Linked DNA regions of Homo sapiens: region 1 is linked to region 2. A link means that fine-mapping ties the variant in region 2 to the expression of a gene that starts in the linked region. Tissue or cell type: whole blood. Region 2 holds a variant in brackets; the other region holds the start of a gene. All regions are shown on one strand. Distances are from middle to middle.

Region 1 (8,137 bases), 46 kb after region 2:
CAATGTAAATGAACCTTGAATACGCTAGGCCGAGGTGAAATAAGCCAGGCACAAAAGCACAAACACTGTAAAATTCTACTTCTATGAGGCACCTACAGGAGCCAAATTCATAGAGTCAGAAGGTAAAATGGTGGTTCTCAGGGGCTGAGAGAGGAGGGAATGGGAAGTTACTGTTTAATAGGTGCGGTTTCAGTTTCACAAGATGAGAAAAGTCCTGGAGATGGATGCTGGTGACGGCTGTGCAACAGTATGAATGTATTTACCACCACTGCAGATGGTTACAATGGCAGTATATTATGTATATTTTACCACAATTAAAAGTTTTTAAAAATAAAAAACCAATACTACCAGGAAAAACCAGTATCATTTACAATAGCATAAAAATAGGTACTATTTAAGGATATGTTCAATAAAAGATGGAAAAGACTGATATACCAAAAACTACAAAACACTGCTGAGAGATAGTAAACAAAACCTAGACAAATACAGAGATATACACTGTTCATGGTCAGAAGGCTCAATACTGCTAACCGATCAATTCTCCCCAAATTGATCATAATCCCAATCAAAATCCCAGCAGGCTTTTTTGTAGAAATTGACTAACTAATTCTAAAATGTATATGGAAGTGCAAAGAACCCAGAATAGCTAAAGCAATTTTGAAAAGACAAAACCAAGTTTGAGATCTTACCCTGATTTCAAGACTTACTATAGTTTATAAACCCACAGTAATCAAGATAGTGTGATACTGGGATAAAGACAGACAAATAGATCAATGGAACAAAACAGAATCCAGAATTAGACACACACAAACAATTGATTTTTTTCTTTTTCTTTTTGAGATGGAGTCTCACACTGTCGCCCGGGCTGGAATGCAGTGGCGCAATCTTGGCTCACTGCAACCTCCGCCTCCCGGGTTCATGCGATTCTCCTGACTCAGCCTCCTGAGTAGCTGGGATTACAGGTGCCCGCCACCACGCCTGGCTAATTTTTTGTATTTTTAGTAGAGACAGGGTTCCACTACGTTCACCAGCTTGGCCTTGAACTCCTGACCTCATGATCCGCCCGCCTCAGCCTCCCAAAGCACTGGGATTAGAGGAGTGAGCCACCGTGCCCAGCCAGCAATTGATTTTTGACAAAGATTCAAAGGCAATTCAGTGGAGAGATACATCTTTTTAATAAATGGTGCTACTAGATCAATTAGATCTCTACATGCAAAAAACTGGACATTGATTCATACCTTGCACCACGTAACAAAAATTAACCCCAAACGAATCCTAGATCTCAATGTAAAGCCCAAAACTATAAAATGTCTACAAGAAAATACAGGGGAAAACTGTTGGGACTTTGGGTCAGGCAAAGATTTCTTGGACATGACACCAAAAATGCAATCCACAAAGTAACAAATTAGTAAATTAATCAAAATTTACAACTTCTCTTCAAAAACACAGCATTTTGCACTACTGATCATGAGAATTTTTTAGAAGACATTGTTAAGAGGATCAAAATACAAAGCCACAAGCTGGAAAAAAGATTTGTAAATCACATACCTGATAAAAGGCTTATATCCAGAATATATCAAGAACTCTTCAGAACTCAACACGAAAAACCCTACACAATTAAAAATGGGCAAACGATCTGAACAGACACAGCACCAAAGACATACGTATGGCAAATGAGCACATGAGAAGATGCCCGACAACATGAGTCATTAAGGAAATACAAATTAAAATTGTAATGAGATACCACTACAGACATGAGAGTGTCTAAAATTAGAGACTGACCACATCGAGATGTGGACATATCAAAGACATGGACAAACCAGAACTCTCATACACAGTGGATGAGTATATAAAATGTACAACCACTTTGGAAAACAGTCTGGCAGTTTCTTAAAGGTTAAATGTGTACCTACCACATGACCCAGCCATTCCGGTCCTAGGGATTTACCTAAGATAAATAAAAGTGTACATCCACACAAAGACTAACAAACACGTTCACAGCAGCTTTCTCTGAAAACCCATCAACAGGTCAATGGATAAACAGACTTTGGCACACGTGTACAATGACTGTTGATACGCGCAACCACCTGGACAAACTCCAAAATACTTCTGTTGAATGAAAGACGCGATTCCGTTTACAGTAAATGCTGCAAACTCAGACACAGTGACAGAAAGTAGACCAGCCTGTTACCTGGGGTAGGGGATGGCAGAGGAGCGGGGGATGGAGGGGTTCCACAAGAAAACTTCTGGGGACAGGGGAATAAGGGGGATGTTCACTATCTTGAAGGTGGGGGTGGTTTCACGGGTATATACACAGGCCACAACTTATTAAATTGTGTGTTTTAAATATGCTCAGTTTACCATATGTCATTATATCTCAATAAAACTGTTATTTAAAACAAACAAAAAGAAACACTGCATCTTCTAGACGAAGCACAAGGTGGGGGCTAATCCCGGGCTCAGGGGCCAGAGGGAACAGTCTGACCCTTCCTCCCTAACATCTGCCGGGGCTCCGGGGAGGTGGGCACCAGGCTCCAAAGGGCCTGAGGTTTCTTTACTCACGACACTGCAGGGGAAGTCCTGGCCCACCGCAGACACCAAGAAACTGAAACCTAAAGACATTATGTTGCCCAAGGAAGTTACACAGCTTGTAAGCGATATAACCAGATCAAAAGCAATCTGTGTGATGCCAAGGCCTTTCTCCCATTCATCTACCACAAGTTCAAAAACGCCGACCTGAAATAAGTAGGTGAAGATTGTGTGTATGTGTTTAAAACAGACCGTTCTCTCCACTGAAGCCAGACAGTGAGAGCCACTCTGGCCATTCCAGAAGCGTCAGGCACCGTGGGCACAGCAGCTGAACTTCCGGTGCATGAGTGTTTGGGTGGCAGCGCGACAGGCATGGGATGAAGCTGACAGGCGGGTTTGAGTTTGTCTGAGGAGCGGGCTAACCGGCTCCTCCAGCAGCTGCTACCTCCAGCACCACTCCCTCTGCCCCCAGAGGAGAGCACCCAGTCTGGTTCGGGACAGGGGTCTGGGTCCATCTGACTCACAGCCACACCTCGGGCTGGGGCAGAGGAGGGTCCTCTAGCTAAGGCCCTGGGCAAGCAGCAACCCTGCACCCATCCCCACCCAGGGGCAGGGGAAGCAAGCACCTGACAGTGCCAGGTAAGAGGCGAACAGCTCTAGGAGAGTAAGGCCCACAAGCAGCCCGCCAAGCCCCCTGGGGGCACGAGGCGGAATGAGTAGGTCTGGCACTCAGGCCACGAGGGAGTCAACAAGCCAAATACAGCCCCCACCCTTGGCCCCTACAAGCCCTACCTCTAGACTGGGCTGGGAGCTCCTGTCCTGACAGGTGCAGAGCCCATGATACCACAGCGGCCCATCTGCAAACCTCCCCAGGGTGGGGCCACAGAGGCAGCCCAGAGCCCTGGGGTGCAAGTGCACCCTCCTCTCCCGCCCCTCTAACGCTGGGTCGTCCCACCCAGAGACGAGAGGGCTCACCAGTTGCTCTCCCTCCTTCCGCCCACTAATCATCCTTGGCTCTGGGCCCTCAGGGTAAATCAGCTGTGACAGGACGGCGTGGCAGAAGCGGGCCAGGCTCGTGCCGTACCCAAGCCACTAGCTGTCACACTCATCTCAGCTCACGTGACCAACAGGGTTACAAGATAAGGTTCTGTTAATCCCACGCTGCCCTCTTCCCTTCTGTGGGACGTGTTTTGAGGACTTGTGTGTTGACTGCACCATGCAGAGCATATAGCATGGAGGCACCCCTACTGCCATCGGGGGGCAGGTGGAGGGGGGACCGTCCTGCAGCTCCTCCCTGGGGCTACCCCTCTCTTCCCTCTGCACAGACCTGGCAGCCACCCAGACGTCCCGCCTGCTGCCTAGACTCTAAGAAGATGCCCTATCACTCCAATTACCATACACAGTACTGGCGGGGGAGAGGTCCTGCCTTGCCGCTGAAAACTGCACTGCTTCCTCCCTCCAGGGATGAAAGGCCAAAAGAACGAGGGCAGTGTGGAGTCTACGCTCTCGCCAGGGACCTGCAGCCTCTCACTTCCAAGCACACCAACTCCAGCTAACAGGACTGGGCTTCCTTACCTGCCGCCTTCCGCTGCCTCCCCGCAGACACAGCTTCAGCGACGCCCAGGCTGAGACGGCAGAAGAGGTTCCCGCCGGCCGCGGCCTGCCCTCAGGCAGTGGCTCCCAGAGCTCAGCGGTTCCCCGCACTCTTCTGCGCCCGACTCCCCATGCCCCTACATCCTGCGTCCCCTTCAGCCCCGGAGGTACCGTGGGGCCCGGGCCTGCCAGTCACCACCTCCTCCTCCGCCGGCGCCTCCGGGTCCTGAGCCCCTCGCCGGGTCCCTCTCCCTCCTGGGGCTCCTTCCCGTTCAGGTAGGTTTCCTGGACAGCCCGCACCACCTGTCCCTCCTGCACCCCGGGCAGCCAATTCGCCTCTTGCACCCCCAGGCGCCCCTCCCCCGCAGGCCCCCGGGGCCCCACCGGCCGGGCCCTCCCCACCAGCTCGGGGCGGCTTCGGGGCGCCGGGGCCGCTCCCAGGACCACCGCCTCCCGCCCGACGCTCTCCCACTGCCGCTCCCCCAGTTCGCCGGAACTTTCCGGCCCCTCCCTGCGCTCGCGGGGGCCTTCCCCGGACTCGGACGCCGGTTCGGGCTGCTGCAGCAGCCTCCGCGGGCTCCCCTCCCCGCGCTCCTGCACCCCGGCCCGGGCCTCGCCGCGCTCCTGCACTGCGGGGCTGCCTCCGCCCTTCTCCTGGTGCTGCCCGCGGGGCCCCAGCCCCTCCTCCTGCGCCACAGGCCAGCCCGCCGAGCCCGTCCACCACGGCGGGCGCCCCCAGCCCGCGCCGTCCGGCGGCCCCCACACCACCCCCCGGCTGGGCTCGTGGCCGCGGCCGCCGCGCTCCTGCAGCCCCGGGCCCACCCCGCCCTCCTCCTGCACCGCCGGGCCCACCCCGCCCCGCTCCTCCACGCCGAGCTTCAGCCCGCGGAGCTGCTGCGGGCCCCAGCTGAGAACCCCTACGCGCTGCGGCTGCTGCTCCGGCAGCGCAGGGCTCAGCCCGCCGCGCTCCTCCTGCGCGACCCGCCGGGGGCCCCCGACCGGCTCGGCCCAGCGCACTCGCTTGCCCCCCAGAGGCCGCGCGCTCCCACCCCTCCAGATGGTGCTGCCCTCGGCGCCCGCTCACACCGCCCGCCCGCCCCGGCCCTCCCCTCCCGCCCCGGGCCGCCCCCGAGTCCCGCGCCCGCCTCCCCGCCCTCGCCTCCGGGCGTCAACGTCGGCCCGCCGGGCGCCCGCCCCGCGCCGGCCCCCGCAGGTGAGCGCCCGCCCGCCGTCCCTCCTGCCGAGCGCCCCGAGCCCGCCTGCGCCTGCGCCTGCGCCGCCCCGGGGTGGGGGGTGGGGGGGAGTCGGCCCGCCCTCTTAAAGGGCCCGGCCTCATCGCTCCTCCCCCGGCTCCTCCCCCAGCCTCCGGGGCCCTACCCCGCTCTCCCCGACTCCCCCGGGCCCGGCCTGCGCCTTCCTGCGGTGCCGAGGAGCGGTGGCGCCCTGGGTGAAGAAGTCCCGCCGAGTCGAGGGGCGCAATGGAGGAGCGCCGGAACAGGTCTCTCATTCCGAGTAGCTACCGTTGCACTGTGCGAGTGTAAAAGTCACTTCCACCCGGTCTCAGTTGTTCCAACCTCAGTTGAAGTGAGGAGGTTGGACTGGAAGGTTTCTGGGGTCACTCCAGTGAGGCTGGGGTTCTAGTCCCAATCTCACCGTGGCACCCCAAAGGCCCAGAAACCCGGACCATCACCTCTCTTTCCCCGGGGCCAACGGAGCACTCCTGAAGGAGGGAGGGTTTGTCTCAGGCCTGACGATTCCTGATGAGGACTTGGGCAGAAACAGCCCCAGGCAAGCGGACCTTCATTCCTGCACTTGAGCCGTCTCCTCCCTGCCCCCACCCCAGAAGGAGAAAACCCAGCGCTCGGATTCCCAGCGGCGGGGCAGCCTGCAGGCCCTGTTCCCAGCCCACAGACCCATGTCCCAGCCCAAACGGAGGCAGCCCTGGGCAGCGGGCGCGTGGAGCCCAAGGGCTCAGGGCCACTCAGCCCTTGTTACTGTCCCTCATCTAGAAAATGGATGTAATAACAAAACAGTTCACGGTAGGTGGCAAGATCAGACACATCGGAAACTGTGTAGGGCTGGCTCTTTCTGCGCTCACACTGTCCAGCAATGGGCCCCAGGGACTTGGCCAGAGCGCAGTAGGGCAATGAGAAAGGGGTGGCTTCTGGAAACCTACACGAGGCCCAGTCTGGGTGGATTTGGGTGGCGGTCCCTTGCCTGCGAGGTGGGCAGGGCAACTTTCTACTAAATTATCTAACACTGCCAGTAATGGCAGCCCTTCCCCAGGGAGCCAGGAGGCTGGGCCAGGACCACCCCCCTGTCGCCTGGCTTCAGGAAAGAAAGTGGGGAAGACAACAGATTTGGGAGAAGGAAACTGAGGAGGTTTTCTCCCAGTCTCCCTCACGCTGCCTCAGTCATGGCCATTGCTAAGACTCACAGAGCCCAACTGTGCAAGGCCCTGCACTTCGCATTCTTCTCATCCAACCCCATGACAACCCAAGGAGACACATAATATCCCCATTTTACACGTGGCAGAACTGAGGTTCTACATGGCCAAGTGACTTGTTCAGTGCCATACAGCTGGTAGTAGTGAAGCCAGGATTCAAATCCAGCTTTCCGACTCTAAAGTCTAAGGCACAGACCGAGTGTGGTGACTCATGCCTGTAATCACAGCACTTTGGAGGCTGAGGAGGGCAAATCATTTGAGCTCCCAAGTTCAGGACCAGCCTGGGCAACACGGCAAAACCCTGTCTCTACAAAAAAAATAGAAAAATTAGCAGAGCATGGTGGCACGCACCTGTAATCCCAGCTACTCGGGAGGCCGAGGGGGGAGGATCGCTTGAGCCTGGGAGGTGGAGGTTGCACTGAGTAGAGACCACACCACTGCACTCCTGCCTGGGCAATAGAGCCAGACCTTGCCTCAAAAAAAAAAAAAATCTGAGGCACAAAAAAGCAACGCCAAATCCAGGGGCCCTGCTTCAGGAAGCATCAGGACTAACTAGATTTTATTGGTCAATAGATGCAAACAACTGATTTAGAGCAAACTTCCCCTCCAGTAAATCAAGCTCCAAATCAAACAAAGCTAGAGGTCAAAGCGCCTCCACGCTGGTTGGTCCTGCTCCTAGGGCAGCACAGCCCCCCATTTCCCCAGCCCCCCATCTCTCCAGTTTCCCTCAAGAAGCCAGAGCCATGCCCCATATGCACCTCTAGTGTAGGATTATCTGGAGCTTTAGGTTCAAAGGAAAGAGTGAGGTCTCCTGCTCCCTTCCTCCCTCCCACCCTGTTCCTCACCAACTCCTGGACGGTCCCTGCCATGCGGTTGAGAACTGGGGCTATGCTGGGATGTGTCCGTGACACTGATCATGGTGGCCAGAGAGACACCGAGGGAGACTGCTCTGCCACTAGGGAGCTGACATGAGGAAGGAGCCCCAGACTAAAAACATAAGTCTCAGGAGATTTGGGAGGTGGCCACAGGGATAACCCCAACCCTCTAATTAACGTGCCTGAGCCAGTCTCCTCCTACATCTGGAACTTTAGGAGAGCTGCCCACAGCAGAATGACTCGGCAAGGAGAAGGGCTTGTCGGGTCTAGCTGGGAGTGGAGGTGGGCCAGGCTGCCAGAGGGAGGCTTTGGGTGGTGCCCTTAAGAGTCTCCTTCATGAGCTGTTTTGCACTGTGAGGTAAGCAAGAGGGCAAGGAAGGCCATTGCTGGGGAATGGGCCGCCTGGCTCACACCTGCAGGCAGCTGCTAAGCCAAGAGTGGGTGGGTGCTGCTGAGGGATTGGGCTTCTAGTTTGTTTGTTTTTATTTTTTTATTTTTTTGAGATGGAGTTTCGTGCTTGTTGCCCAGGCTGGAGTGCAGTGGTGCAATCTCGGCTCACCGCAACCTCTGCCTCCCGGGTTCAAGCGATTCTCCGGCCTCAGCCTCCCTAATAGTTGGGATTACAGGCACCCGCCACCACGCCCAGCTAATTTTTTGTATTTTTAGTAGAGACGGGGTTTCGTCCTGTTACCCA
Region 2 (8,149 bases):
ATCTCATCTCTACAGAAAAAAGAAAAAAAAGAACAAAACTATGTGGGTATAGTGGCGCCTGCCTGTAGTTCTCACAGCTTGGGAGGCTGAGGTGGGAGGATCCCTTGGGCCTGGAGGATCAAGGTACGGTGAGCCGAGCTGAGCTGGAGCCACTGCACTCCAGCCTGGGAGACAGAGGGACACCTTGTCTCTAAATAAATGAACAGTTACAAGATAAAAAACATTAACAAAATGTGTTAACTGGAGTTTATCCACAGAATAAAAACTAGGTAGTGTTTAAATATTCTTTGAGAAGATGAATTTAAAGATACAGAAAACTGGCCAGGCACAGTGGCTCATGCCTATAATCCCCGCACTTTGGGAGGCTGAGGCGGGAGGATTGTTTGAGTCCAGAAATTCGAGACCAGCCTGGGCAACATAGTGAGACCTCGTCTCTACTAAAAATAAAAAAATAAAAAAATTAGCCAGGTGTGGTGGGGCACGCCGGTCACCCCAGCTGCTTGGGAGGCTTAAGTGGGACGATCGCTTGAGTCCAGGAATTCCAGGCCACCCTGAACCATGATCATGCCACGGCACTCATCCTGGGTGACAGAGAGTGACCTTGATTCAAACAAAAAACCAAATAAAATAAAGATAAAAATAAACCTTAAGGAAACCCTGCATGCTGGATGACCTTATTTTATAAAACCGTAATACACATATATGTGCACAAAAAAAAGTGGAATATATCAAAATTTTAAGTGGCTTTCTGGGTCTTTAATTTTCTCACTGCGCTCTTCTGAATGGTCCAAGTCAACAAAGAGCATGTATAACAATCATAAAAACATTTTTTTTTAATACAGTGGAACTGAGGCTTCCCAAATGGAGTGACGTGATGCGAGGACTTCTGCTGGAGAGTGACTGCCCGCTCTCCCAGCCCTCAGCTTCCCTCCAGCTAGCCCAGAGCCGCAGGTTTCTGGCCCAGGTGCAGGCGTGGTGTTTTTCAGAGCCCTCCACCCGTCTCCTTTCCTGACCTTAGATACTGGCTGGTCCCCGTTTGGCTCCAGATGGCGGGCGACCCAGTTCCTTCCCCTCCCAGCTTCCCTGGGCTGACTCCCTTTAAGCACCCATGGGCTTGAGCCAGCAGATTTGGAATTAATTGATTTATTGGGCAATGAATACACAATCTCATCCCTCCCACTCTGAAATTTAGCCAGAGGGCCTGCAATGCCACATTTTGCCAACAGGTGGTGCTGCCTAACACGAAAGCTCTCTGGCCCCGGGTCCTCAAGATGGACTTCGGGGATCATTAAAATAGCAGTCATTGGTGAGGGGCATCCTGACAGGGCACGGGGGACACAGTTACCGCCTAACACCACCACCACCACTACGCAACAACAGCCATTTCAGTACCAAGAACTCAGGAAGACACATCCAAATAAAGACCGTCCTTGAAACGGAATCTCTTTCATTTTAAGAAAAGCTCGGTCCTGCAGTTCTTATCATTTCACCTCAGGTGGCTGAAAACTTAACTCTAGACCGGCAGCGGCCCTGGACTGGCCTTCAAGAACCCTTGCTCTCGACAAAGACTCCAGCAGTTGGAGGTTCCTCCAACCTCCAAATGCAGTTTCTGTACAAATGAACTTGCTTCCAATTAAGGAAACCTTTTGTCCGCAGGGAGAGACGCACTAGGCCTTTCCTCCTTTTGTGGCTGCAGTGGAGCCGCCAGCCGCTTTCAAGCAGCCCCATCCTGAGCACCCAGATGCAACCCCACTACCCCTCTGGCTATTCCTGATGTCTTCCTTTGTCTACAAAGTCAAAAGAACTCAGCATTCCACACCAGCAGCCTCATGATCCAGGCCTGCCTCACGCGCCAGGATCACGAGAGCCGCCTCTAACCCACCCCCAAAACAACAAAAGGATGCGCTCTGGCCTTGCCAACTTCAGTGCCTGGGACAAGCCGGCTCGTGCCCGCCGCCTCGGCTGCAGGGCCCTCCACCTGCAGCGCTTTCGTCCCTACCTGGCGTTCACCGTTCTCACCCATCACATCAGCACAACGTGACCTTGTGGGGAGCCACCTCCTCTGCTCCCAAGACACCTGGTGCGTAACGATTACAGAGCACCCGTCCTGCCGTGATGCTGTCACAGTCCCCCAAAGGCTGTGGACCCATCTGGGGCACGGACTGTTTCTACTTGGCTTGTGTTTCCTCATCAGGGCTCCACACACAAAAAGCACCCGACACCTCCCCACTGAGTTGATTCTCCCTGTTGTTGATTCTGCCTGTTGTTGATTCTGCCTGTTGTTGATTCTCCCTGTTGTCGATTCTCCCTGTTGTTGATTCTCCGTTGTTGATTCTCCCTGTTGTTGATTCTGCCTGTTGTTGATTCTGCCTGTTGGCAAACACACCTGGGTCAGCGTTTCAACTTCCCAACTTAAGATCTTTTCAGTAAACCCAGGAGATGCTGGAAAAGCTGGCAGGCCGATTAGAAGCAAGAAAAACATAGCAGGAAACCCAGGGTTTAGGGAACTGTGTGTCTGGCAGGAAAAGTACACTGGGTTCCCTGCTCCCCTGAGAAACCTCGAGCTGCTTTGACATCCTCTGCCCCCTGCAAAAATCTTTCTGGATGTGTTGGCTCTGAAACAGATTTTTAAATGCTTGTAAAGCATACACACATCTGGATTGCTTACAAAAAATTGATGTGTTTTTTAAAATGAAGTAAAAACACCTATGATCTATAAATAGGATAATTGTGAGCAAAAGAATAAACTTTCTGAAACAGAAGGAAAATGAGAAAAGTAAAACACAATTCTATGCGCAGAGTGTGGTCAGTGTATAATGTGAGCTATTGATTAATAGAAACAGGCAGGAACACGGGGAAATAACATTTATAATAACTACTGTTTGGTGGGAACTGACTGTGGCCCATACTCTAAGCAAAATGTTTCACCTTCACAACCTCAGTCAGTCCTCACAACCCTTCTATAAGGCAGGAATTACTCCATCAGTTTACAGACTCAGAAAGGTGAAATAACATTTCTAAGACGAAACAGAGCTAGGAATGAAATCCAGGTCTAACAGCAATGCTCAACACTCACTTAATATGAACTTGTTCTGGCTGGATGCGGTGGCTCACGCCTGTAATCCCAGCACTTTGGGAGGCCGAGGCGGGCGGATCATGAGGTCAGGAGTTCAAGACCAGGCTGACCAGTATGGTGAAACCCCATCTCTACTAAAAATCCAAAAATTAAAAATCCAAAAATTAGTCGGGTGTGGTGGTGTGCGCCTGTGGTCCCAGCTACTCAGGTGGCGGAGGCAGGAGAATCACTTGAACCCAGGAGGCAGAGGTTGCAGTGAGCCGAGATTGCACCACTGCACTCTAGCCTGGGCAACAGAGCAAGATGCCGTCTCAAAAAAAAAAAAAAAAAAAAAAACTTGTTCCCTTTTGTGATATATTTGACTAGGTATTTTAAATCACAGTTAAAATAATAGAATTCCTGCCTTTGCAAACGGCATATGCAAAGCTCCCAGGCCTCAGAACTTCTGAGCCTCGGGGCCTACCCACGAAGGCCAGCCTACAGCCAGACACACACGTGGCCCAGACTCACCCTGAATGGCCTCTGTTTTGTTTTCAATAAACCCGAGTCATTAAGCTTACTTTCTTATGATTTACCTCTTTTCCTAAAGTTCACATGATCATATGTGAAGCTCAAAGAGCTAGTTTCCTTGATTGATCCAGTAATTTCCTGGAAAGCAGTAAGAAACCGATGAATAATCTAACATTTTGTAATGGGCCAAGGATATTAATAGGCAACTCATTAAAAAGGAAATACAAATGGCTCAACTTATTTTTGAGTTTATTCGTAAGAGAAATGCATATTAAAACTATAGAAACACTATTTTCTACCAGTCAGTCTGCCAAAGATCAGAAAACTCCTTAACACATGGAAAGCTCCCTTGCACAGGTGGTGTGACAACTGAGAATGTCCCTCCGCTGAGAGCAGGTTCAGCACCACCCACCGCCATGGCACACGCCCTTTGACCTAGCAGTCCCACTGCTGGGAACTCATCTTCAGATTGACGTGCGAGTGAAAAACAGCCCACATACACAATTTACTGAGGCAATGGTTGTAATTGCGAAGGACTGGATGCAACTAAAATTGCCCTTCATCAAAAGGAACCCAGTTAAGTAGGTTATGGTACACCCGTGCATCCACGCAACCCGAAAGAATGGGGAAGCCCAGCCGGGCGCGGTGGCTCATGCCTATAATCCTAGCACTTCGGGAGGCTGAGGCAGGCGGATCACCTGAGGTCAAGAGTTTGAGACCAGCCTGGCCAACATGGAGAAACCCCATCTCTACTAAAAATACAAAAATTGGCTGGGTGTGGTGGCACGTGCCTGTAATCCCAGCTACTCAGAGGCTGAGGCAGGAGAATTGCTTGAACCTGGGAGGCAGAGGTTGCAGTGAGCAGAGATCGCACCACTGTACTCCAGCCTGGGCAACAAGAGCAAAACTGTCTCAAAAAAAAAAAAAAAAAAAAGAATGGGGAAGCACGTTCAGTATTGCTATGGAATTCTTCAAAATATTATTAAGTAAAAACAAAAACAAGCACTACACAAGAAACTGGTGATACAGGCGTCTCTGC[A/G]CTGGGGAAGTGGACGGCCGCGGTGGGTGATACCCAGTCATTTCACTGTACACTCCTCAGTGCCTTTTCAATTTTGAACCGTATGAACATGAGTTATTCAGAAAAGCAATTAAAATACCTAACATATTGAAGGGTTCCTTGTTGCTAACATTTCTGGCTTGGTTCTATTTAACTGGGTTGCTGTACTCTCTCCTGCAGTATATATCCTGCCTTACAGAAGTCCACGCGGCAAGTGAAATCCAGGCAGTGTGAAAGTCACTGACCAGACCGGCGGGGACTCTGGCCCCGCTGCCGGCCGTGTAAGGGAAGAGGCCTCCCGGTGTCCAGGCCTGCGCGCCCTCCCGCTGCCTCCAGGTGGTGCTACAAGGCCTGCTGCCCGGAGCAGATGCTGGTGGCCTGGGGAGCCTCGCTTGGGGCCTGGAGCTTGCTGACTAACAGGCAAAGAAACAGGCAGGCACAAGTAAGTAACATAAAATAGAAACTAACTTTATTTCTCTGGAAGAAGCAGGTACTGAATGCCGGAGCAGCAACTTCGCCAACAGGCTGGTGGGAAAACATGGAACCGCGTGGGGGAATTGGGTGGAAGAGGAAGCACTGATGTCCCTCCAGGGCGGCTGCCCCTTGGTCTCCTTCCAGCCCTGGGGCCTTGGGCCCTGGTCCCCGCCAGAGAATGGTCTGGCACCCTTTCTCCGCTTCCTGAGCCACCTCAGGCTATTTCCAGGCACAAGATCCTGAGGCCAGCCAAGTCCCATTCAAGTCCATGGTAAGGCCACAAGTCACATTCTGCCCGACACCCCAGCTGCTGCCAGGGGCCCCCTGGAAGAAGGCCCAGTCCTAGGAGGTCCCACCGGGTGCCGGTCCGCCTCTCCCTGTGGCCAACACATCCCGCCTGCCCAGGTCCAGCCTGGTTTCCTCCCAGTCTGTCACCCAGGGCAGGGCCTGGGGGTACTACTCCACCCACAGGCCCCGCCCAGGACCAGGGCCAGAGGCAGGTCATACCCAGAGCCTGCTGGGGCAGCCCTCAAGCCTGTCTTCACCCGGCCCCTTCCACATCTTGGCAGGGGCACCGGGACTGAACCAAAGTGTGCAGGGACAGCGCTGGTGCAGGAGGGATGGGCAGGGCAGGGCTCCCAGCCTCCCGCAGCCTTGGCCTTGCTCCATCCCCGGGAGCAGCAGGAGCAGCGGGTCCTCCAGGACTGGATGGGGGCATCTCCCCACTCCTGGTGGACGGACAGGCTCAGGTGATTCCTTCAGGCAGGCCCTCTGGCTCTCCAGACGCATCTCAGCGCCTAGAGAATGGGAAACCACCAGCACAGTTAAACAGTTTACAGAAGGTTCAGCGGGGCAGGCACCGGGGGTCACACTGGTGCCAGGCAACACCACTGGAAGCTGGCAGTCCCCGGCAAGGACTGTAAAATTTATCATCCTGGATGTCTTTTCTCTGTACTTTAATAAACTATGAGTAAACTAACAGAAGAGCACTCCTGCGTATTAGAGAATCCGAAGACGACAGGTGGGATAGAGCCCAAAGCCTATGTGGATGCAAATCAGTAAGAACCACCCGAGACAGCGACAGACAGGTGACACGGAGTGCCTGCATCCCAGCTGCAAATCAGTAAGAACCACCCCAGACAGCGACAGACAGGTGACACGGAGTGCCTGCATCCTAGATGCAAATCAGTAAGAACCACCCGAGACAGTGACAGACAGGTGACACGGAGTGCCTGCATCCCAGATGCAAATCAGTAAGAACCACCTGAGACAGTGACAGACAGGTGACAGCGAGTGCCTGCGTCCCAGATGCAAATCAGTAAGAACCACCCGAGACAGTGACAGACAGGTGACAGCGAGTGCCTGCGTCCCAGGTGCAAATCAGTAAGAACCACCCGAGACAGTGACAGACAGGTGACACGGAGTGCCTGCGTCCCAGGTGCAAATCAGTAAGAAACACCCGAGACAGTGACAGACAGGTGACAGCAAGTGCCTGCGTCCCGGGTGCAAATCAGTAAGAACCACCCGAGACAGCGACAGACAGGTGACACGGAGTGCCTGCATCCCAGATGCAAATCAGTAAGAACCACCCGAGACAGCGACAGACAGGTGACAGCGAGTGCCTGCGTCCCGGGTGCAAATCAGTAAGAACCACCCGAGACAGTGACAGACAGGTGACACGGAGTGCCTGCGTCCCAGGTGCAAATCAGTAAGAACCACCCGAGACAGTGACAGACAGGTGACAGCGAGTGCCTGCGTCCCAGATGCAAATCAGTAAGAACCACCCGAGACAGTGACAGACAGGTGACAGCGAGTGCCTGCGTCCCAGATGCAAATCAGTAAGAACCACCCGAGACAGTGACAGACAGGTGACAGCGAGTGCCTGCGTCCCAGGTGCAAATCAGTAAGAACCACCCGAGACAGTGACAGACAGGTGACAGCGAGTGCCTGCGTCCCGGGTGCAAATCAGTAAGAACCACCCGAGACAGTGACAGACAGGTGACACAGAGTGCCTGCGTCCCGGGTGCAAATCAGTTAAGAATGACCCGAGACAGGATGGGACAGACAGGTGACACCGAGTGCCTGCATCCCAGGTGCAAATCAGTAAGAACCACCCGAGACTGGGACAGACAAGTGACACGGAGTGCCTGCATCCCAGGTGCAAATCAGTAAGAACCACCCGAGACAGTGACAGACAGGTGACAGCGAATGCCTGCGTCCCAGGTGCAAATCAGTAAGAACCACCCGAGACAATGACAGACAGGTGACACAGAGTGCCTGCGTCCCAGGTGCAAATCAGTTAAGAACGACCCGAGACAGTATGGGACAGACAGGTGACAGGGAGTGCCTGCATCCCAGCTGCAAATCAGTAAGAACCACCCGAGACAGTATGGGACAGACAGGTGACACGGAGTGCCTGCATCCTGGCGCCAGGCGTGCTGGGCGCAATAAGACAGACATGTCCCCCATCCATCGCGCCAGTCCCTTCCACGGGGTGAGCACTATTATCTACACGCTTTATATGTGGAGAAACTCCGCACCGTGCACAGGGCCACGCTGCTGGGACAAGGGCAGCAGGTATCTCCAGGGCCTGGCCCGTGTCAGCCCCTCCTCCCGCCAGTGCCTCCTGCCATGGTGCTGGCTCCAGCCATGTGACCTCAGTTCACTTCTTTTTGACTTGACAGCGCTCTCATATATATATTTACATAATATATAAAGTGTGTTTATATATGTATATATTTTAAATGTCTATATATTTTGTTAAACTATAATATAAACCTTTTACAGGAAAGACAATATATTTTCTTTTTAGAGAAAATTTTTTTTTTTGGAGACAGTCTCCCTCTGTCGCCCAGGATGGAGTGCAGTGGTGCAATCTCAGCTCACAGCAACCTCCGCCTCCCAGGTTGAAGCGATTCTCCTGCCTCAGCCTCCCCAGCAGGTGGGATTACAGGTGCCCACCACCATACCCGGTTAATTTTTGTATTTTTAGTAGAGACCTGGTCTCGCCATGTTGGCCAGGCTGGTCTCGA

What was found. PIP is the estimated chance that this variant, and not a neighbour inherited with it, causes the effect.
Region 1: TNK2 starts here. The variant in region 2 is fine-mapped to the expression of TNK2 in whole blood (TOPMed, PIP above 0.99).

The regions. Positions count from the first base shown.
Region 1 is chr3:195,904,381-195,912,517 of GRCh38, forward strand. It overlaps TNK2 (tyrosine kinase non receptor 2), which reads right to left and starts at 4,171. Exons shown (of 16, transcript NM_001382273.1): 1 at 4,105-4,171. It overlaps TNK2-AS1 (TNK2 antisense RNA 1), which reads left to right and starts at 3,696. Exons shown (of 2, transcript NR_145450.1): 1 at 3,696-4,398; 2 at 5,485-8,137. RefSeq lists enhancers at 2,385-2,434, 2,485-2,714, 5,705-5,754 and silencers at 4,385-4,634, 4,685-4,874, 4,925-5,574.
Region 2 is chr3:195,858,274-195,866,422 of GRCh38, forward strand. TNK2 (tyrosine kinase non receptor 2) reads right to left here. Exons shown (of 16, transcript NM_001382273.1): 16 at 5,091-5,914. The coding sequence ends at 5,908. LINC01983 (long intergenic non-protein coding RNA 1983) reads right to left here and starts at 2,131. Exons shown (of 2, transcript NR_134939.1): 1 at 2,000-2,131. RefSeq lists enhancers at 1,518-2,042, 2,043-2,565. The variant A/G (reference allele first, on the strand shown) is at 4,626.